Homo sapiens: one gene and its partner. The protein of the gene in region 2 purifies or fractionates together with the protein of the main gene of each other region. This does not show direct contact. Each region holds a gene or a part of one and is shown on either strand. Other genes may lie near its edges.

Region 1 (4,442 bases), on a different chromosome or scaffold from region 2:
AAGGAGAGGAAGAAACCGATTTATACTGAAAGAGACCTAAGGCATATATCCACAAAATGCAATGTTGGCTGTATTTTGGAAATTGACTTGGACAATCCAACTGTAAAATCCCATTTTTGAAACATCTCGTGAAATTTGAACACTGACTGGTAAGTGAAAATGACCAGAAAAGAATTAAGGCTTTTTTCCATTACAAGAGATGATGCTGTGTTTATATTTTTTCAAAAGACAATACTTTATAAAACATACTTTTACACACATTTTCCTGATTGTAGATATCCAGAGGATGTCAAATAAATACTATTTAAGAGTAAGACTCCTCTGCAAAAGTTCGATTTCCCCCTCTCAAAATAAAAGGATAAAGCTTTGACATGTTATTAAAGATCACTATCCTCCATCACCACCAGCCCAACCATATTTCCCAAGGCTCCTCTTTATGCCACTACACCTCCAGACAAACTAGATGATTTGCAGTTCTCACACTTTTCTTCTGCAGGACTTGAAGGCCCTGGTATACACTTCCCCCATTTTATTTGTCCAAATCCTACTCTCTTGAAGATCCATCCAAAACTTAGCTCCTGGCTAGGCACAGTGGCTCACGCCTGTAATTCCAGAACTTTGGGAGGCTGAGGCAGGAGGATCACTTGAGCCCAGCAGTCTGAGATCAGCCTGGGCAACATAGCAAGACCCTGTCCCTACTTAAGAAAAAAAAAAGTAGGCTGGGTACGTTGGCTCACACCTGTAATCCCAGCACTTTGGGAGGCCGAGGTGGGCGGATTATCTAAGCTCAGGAGTTCAAGACCAGCCTGGCCAACATGGTGAAACCCCATTTCTACTAAAAATACAAAAAATTAGCCAGGTGTGGTGGTGCATGCCTGTAATCCAAGCTACTCGGGAGACTGAGGCACAAGAATCACTTGAAGCCAGGAGGCGGAGGTTGCAGTGAGCTGAGATTGTGCCACTGCACTCCAGCCTGGGTGACAGAGTGAGACTGCCTCAAAAAAAAAAAAAAAAAAAGTAAAAGAAAAAAATATTAGTTCCTACATAAAGCCTTCTTTGAACCTTCTATTAGAAGTAATTATTCCTGGGCTGGGTGTGGTGGCTCACAACTGTAATCCCAGCACTTTGGGAGGCTATGGTGGGCGAATCACTTAAAGTTAGGAGTTCGAGACCAGCCTGGCCAAAACAGTGAAACCCCATCTCTACTAACAATACAAAAATTAGCCGGGCATGGTGGTGAGTGCCTGTAGTCCCAGCTACTCGGGAGGCTGAGGCAGGAGAATCACTTGAACCCAGGAGGCGAAGGCTGCAGTGAGCCAAGATCGTACAATTACACTCCAGCTTGGGCGACAGAGCAAGACTTGGTCTCAAAAAAAAAAATAAATAAATAAATAAATAAAAAGAAGTAATTAATCCTGCAGTTCACCTATGGTATCTGTAATATCCCACCTTGTACTATACACTTCTTTTAGGTGCACTCATGCATTCCTGCAACACGTAATTATTAAGTAACTACTATCGATCTGTACATCCAGAAAATATTTATTGAACACCTATTATACTTTGGACCTGTGCTAGGGGCTAACTATGCTACAATGAATAGACAAACACTGCCCAACCTGATAGAGATTACAGTCTAGTAAGGGAAGACAACAATTTTACACAAGAAATTACTCACAATTATGAGAAATAGGACAAGCGCAGTGGCTCATGCCTGTAATCCTAGAACTTTGGGAGGCTCAGATAGAGAATCGCTTGAGCTCAGGAGTTCGAGACCAGCCTGGTCAACACAGTGAGACCTCGTCTCTACTAAATATTAAAAAAAATTAGCCAGGCCTGGTGGTGCACACCAGTAGTTCCAGCTATTCATGAGGCTGAGGCAGGAAGTTAAGCCCAGGAGTCTGAGGCGGCAGTGAGTTATGACAGTGCCACTGTACTCCAGCCTGGGCAACAGAGTGAGACCCTGTCTCAAAAAAAAAAAAAAAAATTAGGAGAAACGTTACAGAAAGTGTAGGAACTATATTAGAGGATATAACAGACAGGTAAGACTCAATTGCGCCCTGTCACATATGGCACATAATTTAGAATTACTTTTTTTTCTTTTTTTTTTAGAGACAAGGTCCCCCCACCCCAGGGCAGGATGCAGCGGCACGATCATGGCTCACTGCGGCCTCAAACTTCTGGGCTCAAGCAATCCTCCTACCTCAGCCTCCTGAGGAGCTGATACTATAGGTGTGCACCACCACGCCTGGCTTTTTTTTTAAGAGACAGGAGTCTCGCTATGTTGATCATGATGGTCATGAACTCCCGGGCTCAAACTATCCTTCCACCTACAGGTGTGGGCCACTGCTCCTGGCCAGGATTAATTACTTCTTAAATGAACTATGTACCCCAATTTTGAACAATGCAGCTCTGCTGGAAATGTCTGGGACTTAAGTAAAATGTGTAAAGCCATAACCTGATACACACTAGGCCCTCAAGAATAAATGTTAGTTATTTTCACTGGGTGCTGTGCCCCTCCAGAGAGAAACTGATTAGGTTTTGGATACTAATCCCCTAGCTCTAGGCCGCTAAGTAATACCAATCTAATAAGCATTTCAGAAATAAGTATAACAGGAAAGGAAGTAATATGTAATAAAAACATTCTGCATTTGCATCAAGGGTTTCCTCGAGATGTCGAGTATCATTATTCCCAATTTAAAGATGAAGTAACTGAGGCTCGAAAAGAAGAACAGGACCTAACAACATCGTACAGAAGTCCCAGCTCCAGGGCATCTGCTGGTCTTTCTCCACCCCTCCATAACTCTACAACCTTGGTCCAGAACAGGCCTCTGGGCCCCAGACCTCGGAGGGATTGAGCCTTTCCCAGAAGGCTTTGCAGCGCCGCGGAGAACTCTGGGATACAAATGGATACACAAATCCAAAGCAAAAGTCTAGACCTGGGCCCGAGAAACAGCCTCTTAAGCCCCCCAGGTGCCTTCTTCGGCTCGTTTGTGTGCTTACCTTTCCTGGAGCTCCCGCCATCGGGAGCCTCACTAAGCCCCGCAAAGGCTGGGAACAGCGCCATGACCACAGGCCGTACCTCCGTTCTTCTCTATAGGGATGGCGCCGGCGAGCGAGCGCCGGTCTGAGGACCCCTGCCGTCGCGGTGCACTCTGGGAAATGTGGTTTTCGCGGCGCTCTCTGGGGCTTGACCCCGAAGCGGGAGGGGCGGGGCCCAGAGAGGAGGGTCGTCAAGGGACTGGGGCGCGGCGGGGCAGGGAGAGGCAGGGCAAAGCAGGGTGGGGCGGGGCCAAGGGGGGCGGAGCGAGGAGTGACGGGTTCCTAGTGGTTGGGACCCTGTGAGAACCGGAACTGCGAAAACCGGAGAAGGGAATTGTTGACCGCGAAAGGGACTAAGGAAATTGGGATTCCAGTTCGACCCCTAAATTCACACCATCCTTGCTAACTGGGTCAACTTAAACGCTCTAAGCATTACTTTCCTTATCTGCAAAATATTGAGAAGATTAAATGAACATATTTATAAAGGGCCTAGCATTGAGTCCGGCCCATGAAAAGCACTTAATATGTGTTAGCTATTATGTGAATTACGACTGCAAGTTCGGCTCAAAGTCATGTGAGATATCCGAACTTCAATCAGGTTACCATATTAAATACCCCAGAACAAGGAAAAATGGAAAGTCCCATCAAGTTCAAGGGTCTTTGATAGTTAGGAAATACCTGTCTGTGAAGCATTCTTGACCCCGGTTCCTCCCACCCAAAATCTAATCACACTTGCTACCAGAAATATAGAGAGTAAAGGAACAACTTAGAAGACTTTGTACTACCAAGAAACAATTAGCCAAATCTAGAATATGGGAAATTATAGAAAACAACCGTGCTTCCTTAACATATCAAGGGCTTTAAGAGGGCAGGAGATTGTAATAGATACGAAGATCTTACAGACACATCAAGCAAATACAACATATTTGTGGCCTCATTATAATTCTGATTGGACAAACTGTAAAAAGACCTTTTTAAGATAGATGGAGAAATAAGAAGGTAGGCAGAGTACAAGCAATTCACAAGTAATTCTTGTGAATTCTGTTAGATGTACTAAAGTACTTATGTCACTGAGGTGACCCTTATTTATTTATTTTGAGACAAGGTCTCCTTCTGCCACCCAGGCTGGAGTGTAGTGGTACGATCTCTGCTCACTGCAGCTTCGAACTCCTCGATTCAAGCAATCCCCTCACCTCAGCCTCCCAAGTGGCTGGAACCACAGGCATACACCACCATGTCTGGCTTAATTTTTTTTTTTTTAATAGAGACAGGGTTTCACCATGTTGCCCAGGCTGGTCTCGAACTCCTGGGCTCAAGCGATCTGCCCCCCTCTGCCTCCCAAAGTGCTGGGTGCCTGTGCCTGAGCACCCCCCAACCCAGCCTGAGATTACTTTTTAAAG
Region 2 (4,476 bases):
CTTGTTCCCTTGCCTTATTCAGAGACAGTGCTGAGATTTAAGCTGCTCATTCATTCTCAGAGACTACTTCAACGCTACCTCCATATCAAGATGGTTCTCTTGCTCTGTTTCTACTATTACTTCTAACTCCAGCTCACAGGCTTTTCTTATAACCCTAGGAACAGCAAGCTCTACCAAAGCAAGGTCTCCTCTGCTTCCTCAGACTGCCGACCAGTGCTGAGAACAGGGACACTGAATATCTGTGAGCTGAGCGCATCCAGCCATCAACTGACTCACTCACTGAAGAACGCTACATTCTGGGCATATCTTCCATGACAGTCCAGCAGGGTAGCTGTTGGAAATCCAAACATGTCCACTCCTGCTTACGACCTCAGTCACCACCTCTTCATATGATTCTTCCATGGGCTGTTCCTGAGCACCTGAGGGAGAAAAACAAACAGAAACAAACAGGAAAGGGCAGAATAATTGATATGTGAGAAGGAAAAAGTCAACAGTTGTTGAGACATAAGTGAATGTAAGAAACCTAGATTGTTTGACATAATGTCAGTTACTAAAATATCACTGCAAAATGGGCCCAAAGGTACCAGGACCACACACAAATGAGTCTAGGAGGAAGCAGGATGTGGGAAAGCAGAGAACACATAAACATATATCTCTTCCTGCCAATCCCAAGTTAATAGTCACTCCTGTTTACACTTTGGTCTTGGCATGTAATTGGGATCTTCCATTTTGGTTCCCCACCTAACCACCTACTACTTTCTTCCCTCCAAGCCCCAGAGGAATTCAGAATCTAAGAAAACAACATTTCAGCCTTCATGATTGGTTGGAGCCAATCAGCTCTCCAGTTATCTGTAGTTACAAAGACTTAACAAGAGAGTCCATTTGTTACCACTGAACAATTCTTAGGAGGCTCCAGACCCAGACTCGCCTTTCTCTTGCTCTTGAAGATACAAGAATACCAGTTCTGACCAAGTGTAAACACTTGTCAATTCTTGGAAAAGAAAGACCTACTCTGGACTCCAAGCCCAAGGCACTCCAACTAGGTTAAGTAACTTGCCCAGAAACCCACAGAAAATAAGGAGTCAAAGTGGAGCAAAGGTTCAAATCCAAGACTTTCTGGATCCAAAATGTATGCTCTTACATTAGACAGTTGTCTAGTTCCTAATCACTAAAGAGCTGGTCAGAATGCTTATAAAATTGAACAGAAAGGAAGAGAGTTTGACCAGATTGAAGTGCTCTTTCAGATCCTAGGAATCCTCTTGTATGTGCTCTAAATTATTTTTTAATTTTTTTAAAATTCTGAGTCAAGATTTTGCTCTGTTGCCCAGGCTGGAGTACAGTGACTCAATTACAGCTTGCTGTGACTTTGAACTCCTGGACTCAACGGATCCTCCCACTTCAGCCTCCCAAATAACTAGGACTACAGGTAAGCACCACCAAGCCTGGCTAATTTTTAAAAATTATTTTAACTTTTTTTTGTAGAGATCGGGTCTCATTATCCTGCCCAGGCTGGTCTCCAACTCTTGGCCTGAAGTGACCCTCCTGCCTCGGCCTCCCAAGACATGTAGGCATGAGCTACTACACCTGGCCCACATGATCTATTTTTTAAAAAAAATATTTCTTCTTACTTCAGGATCCTAATTACTGAATTCTTATACTTTTAAGAAATGCAGTGGTTCAATGCATACTCCTTGTTTCCCTCTAATTTGTCCTATCAAAATGCTGGCCTTCTGATTTAATGAAATAATAGTATGATGCTACCATTCTTTGTTTTGTCAACCTAAGCACCTGGTTCTTCTTGACAACTGCACATTCTGCTACATGCTGTGATGACCAGGAGAATCATTTAAATTTTTATTTGGAGGACTCACTTCCAACTTGGAACACAAGCTGCAAAGGAATTCCCTACCAGCATGCCAGCACATCATTTGGAAGTTCAAGGTATTCTTGCTCAACAGCTGCACACACATTAAAAGTCCCTGGGGTACATGGCGCCTGCTGCCTGGGGTTGGACTCTGTCGCCGGGGATTCCAGAAATTAGAGTAGAATTCACAGCTCTGCCTCTCCACCTGCTGTGAGGTCTTCAAGTTACAACTCCGCCGCCTATCAGGGACCTCCGTGATTAGTAAGGGAGAAATTGTCATATTTTTCTCCCTAGATCACAGGTCTGAGGAAGCAGTTTCCCCAAGATTTTGTAAAAGTGGCTTTATAATTAAAAACATTGATTTTCCTATTAGAAAGGCTACTATATCCTTTGGAAAAAGCTTAGAAGTAGTCCGTGAGTCTTGGCTTCTTGCCGTGGCTCCCCCAGGATATGATCTTGGGCGAGTAACCCAGCAGCCCTGACTCTGCTTCCCCACTTATTAAACAGGTTACTAACACTGTCCTATCAGGTAGGACAATGAGAAGGAAAGAACCAAACAAGAGGAGTATCAGACGAGACCACCAGACTTAAGATCTAAAATCCGGCGTCCTCTGGAGGGCGGATGAGAAGAGGGGTACACTTGGCGGTCTGGAAAATGTCCTGGGGCCAGTTTCAGGTTTAGGAGCTTGTGGGTAGCGTGGTTTCCCACACGCTGCCTGGCTTCCTACTCTCCCCCGCAGGGGCTGCCTCTCCTCCCACCCCGGAAGGCCGGCACCGGCTTCCCGCACTCGCTGAAGCCCGCACGGAGGCCGGGTGAGCCTGCCGCGGCCTCCCCCTCCCACGCCCCGACGCCATGGGCCCTGCTCCTCTCCGCAGACGCTGCCCTCCCGCCTCAGGCCCCGGGCCCCGGGCACCGGGCCCGCCCTGCGTCCTGAACCTCGGCATCCCGCTCTCCGGTCCACGGGACCCTGCTCTGCGGACCGCCGACCTCTCCGCTCGCGGCTGGCCTCCCTCGGGGCCCGGGCCGGCCAGGCCTGCTCATTTCCTTGGCGGCCGCTGGCATAAGGCGGCCACACGGAGGGCCCGGGACAGCGGTCTGATGGCGCAGCCCCGCCTTGCCCCGGCGCTCTGACCCGGCCAGCGGCCTCACTCACCGCAGCGGCGCGTGCCCGCAGACAAAGGCCGGCGCCGAGCCCGCAGCAGCGCCAGCGCCGGCGCCGGCGGAATGGACTACAACTCCCAGGAGTCTCCCCGCGAGCCCGCCCGCCGGGCCGTGGGTCTCGGCGGCCCCGGCTTCCCAAGAGCTCTGTGGGAAATGTAGTTCTCTGGCGCGCCCTGCGCTCGGGCCCCGCAGGTCCCTAGGGCGCGGGGACCTCAAGCCGTCCCGTTTGGACTGGTAATCCGGAGACTCACAGCGGTGACCTGTCAGCGGACGCGGAGCCGGGACGGAGCCACGGCCGCTCAGATTAGCAGGATCTGATTGACAGCATCGGGGTAGCAGACGCTGAGCCAGGGACTCAGGAATACAGGGTTCTTGCAGGGCGTCGCGGAAGGAAACGAAGTTTTTGGGAGAAATCCGTTTGATAAAGCCTTGGCGGCTTCGAGGTCATGTGTTGAGCCTCTGGCTGCATGAACAAAAGCGAAGCCCGCTTTCATGGAGCTTCTGTGAAGAGCAACAGGAACACAGGCAGTCCAGTCGTCCTGAGATACTGGGAGGAGCATGGTTGCTTTTGAACACGTAGGAGATAAAGCCTCTCTAATAATGCCTGTTTTTTTTTTTCCTTCACTCTGTCTCCCAGGCTTGAGTGCAGTGGCACGGTGTCGCCTCACTGCAACCTCCGCCTTCTGGGCTCAAGTGATTCTCCTGCCCCAGCCTCCCAAGTAGCTGGGACTACAGGTCTGTGCCACCATGCCTGGCTAATTTTTTTGTATTTTTAGTAGAGATGAAGGTTTTACCATGTTGGCCAGGCTGTCTGATATGCCTTAAGCCTCTTTTAAACGCACTTTTCCAGGATCGGGGCCACATCCTGGAGCTGTTCTGCCTGGCCGGGTGTATCTCTGGGTCCCTGCCTCTGGAGCCCCTCTCCGTAGATGTGTCTGTCCATCCTCTTTCGTGAAGGACTAATAAAGAATGCTTCCTCTTGCTATGTTCTTGTTCTCTACCCCAAAGCCACAGATTTGTTAAATCAAACAACTTAATTTCACTCAATATGCAAAGGTGTCTGTAAGTAATAAGTTGATTCCTAAATGTTAGCTTTTACTATTGCACATCATTTCTGAATTTCATTCAACATTTATCCGTTGAATCCATTTTAAGTGCTGACACTGGGGATACGAATGTGAGCAAGACACACTCCGTGCTCCTAGGGAGGAGCTGACAGTCTGGTGGAGCAAACAAACACCACCTTCCTCACATGGGGGTCGGGGTGTTGCACAGCTAAGTCCCAGAGTGTGTGGTGCAAACTGTCCTGAAGCTCCCCATTCCTGAACTGCCCCAGGTGGCTCCTCTCCTCACTCCTCCCAAGTCTGAGAAAGGGGTGGAGGGCGGCACACAGCAAAGGCCAAGGCTCAGAGTCCTAAGGCTGCGGCCTCTGCTTCACACAAGGGTACAT

Evidence for each region.
Region 1: the proteins of ZNF32 (region 2) and NRDE2 purify together in Homo sapiens (affinity purification with mass spectrometry; one large-scale study listed by BioGRID and IntAct). This does not show direct contact.

The regions. Positions count from the first base shown.
Region 1 is NC_000014.9:90,328,838-90,333,279, forward strand, and holds the start of NRDE2 (nuclear exosome regulator NRDE2), read right to left. Parts: upstream 3,105-4,442; 5' UTR 3,068-3,104; coding exon 3,004-3,067; intron 1-3,003. UniProt on the Homo sapiens protein: Protein of the nuclear speckles that regulates RNA degradation and export from the nucleus through its interaction with MTREX an essential factor directing various RNAs to exosomal degradation.
Region 2 is NC_000010.11:43,645,784-43,650,259, forward strand, and holds the start of ZNF32 (zinc finger protein 32), read right to left. Parts: upstream 3,099-4,476; 5' UTR 3,019-3,098; intron 3,017-3,018; exon of another isoform or gene 2,802-3,016; intron 2,237-2,801; exon of another isoform or gene 1,786-2,236; intron 1,427-1,785; exon of another isoform or gene 1,329-1,426; intron 515-1,328; exon of another isoform or gene 420-514; 5' UTR 351-419; coding exon 281-350; exon of another isoform or gene 257-280; coding exon of another isoform or gene 175-256; exon of another isoform or gene 159-174; intron 1-158. UniProt on the Homo sapiens protein: May be involved in transcriptional regulation.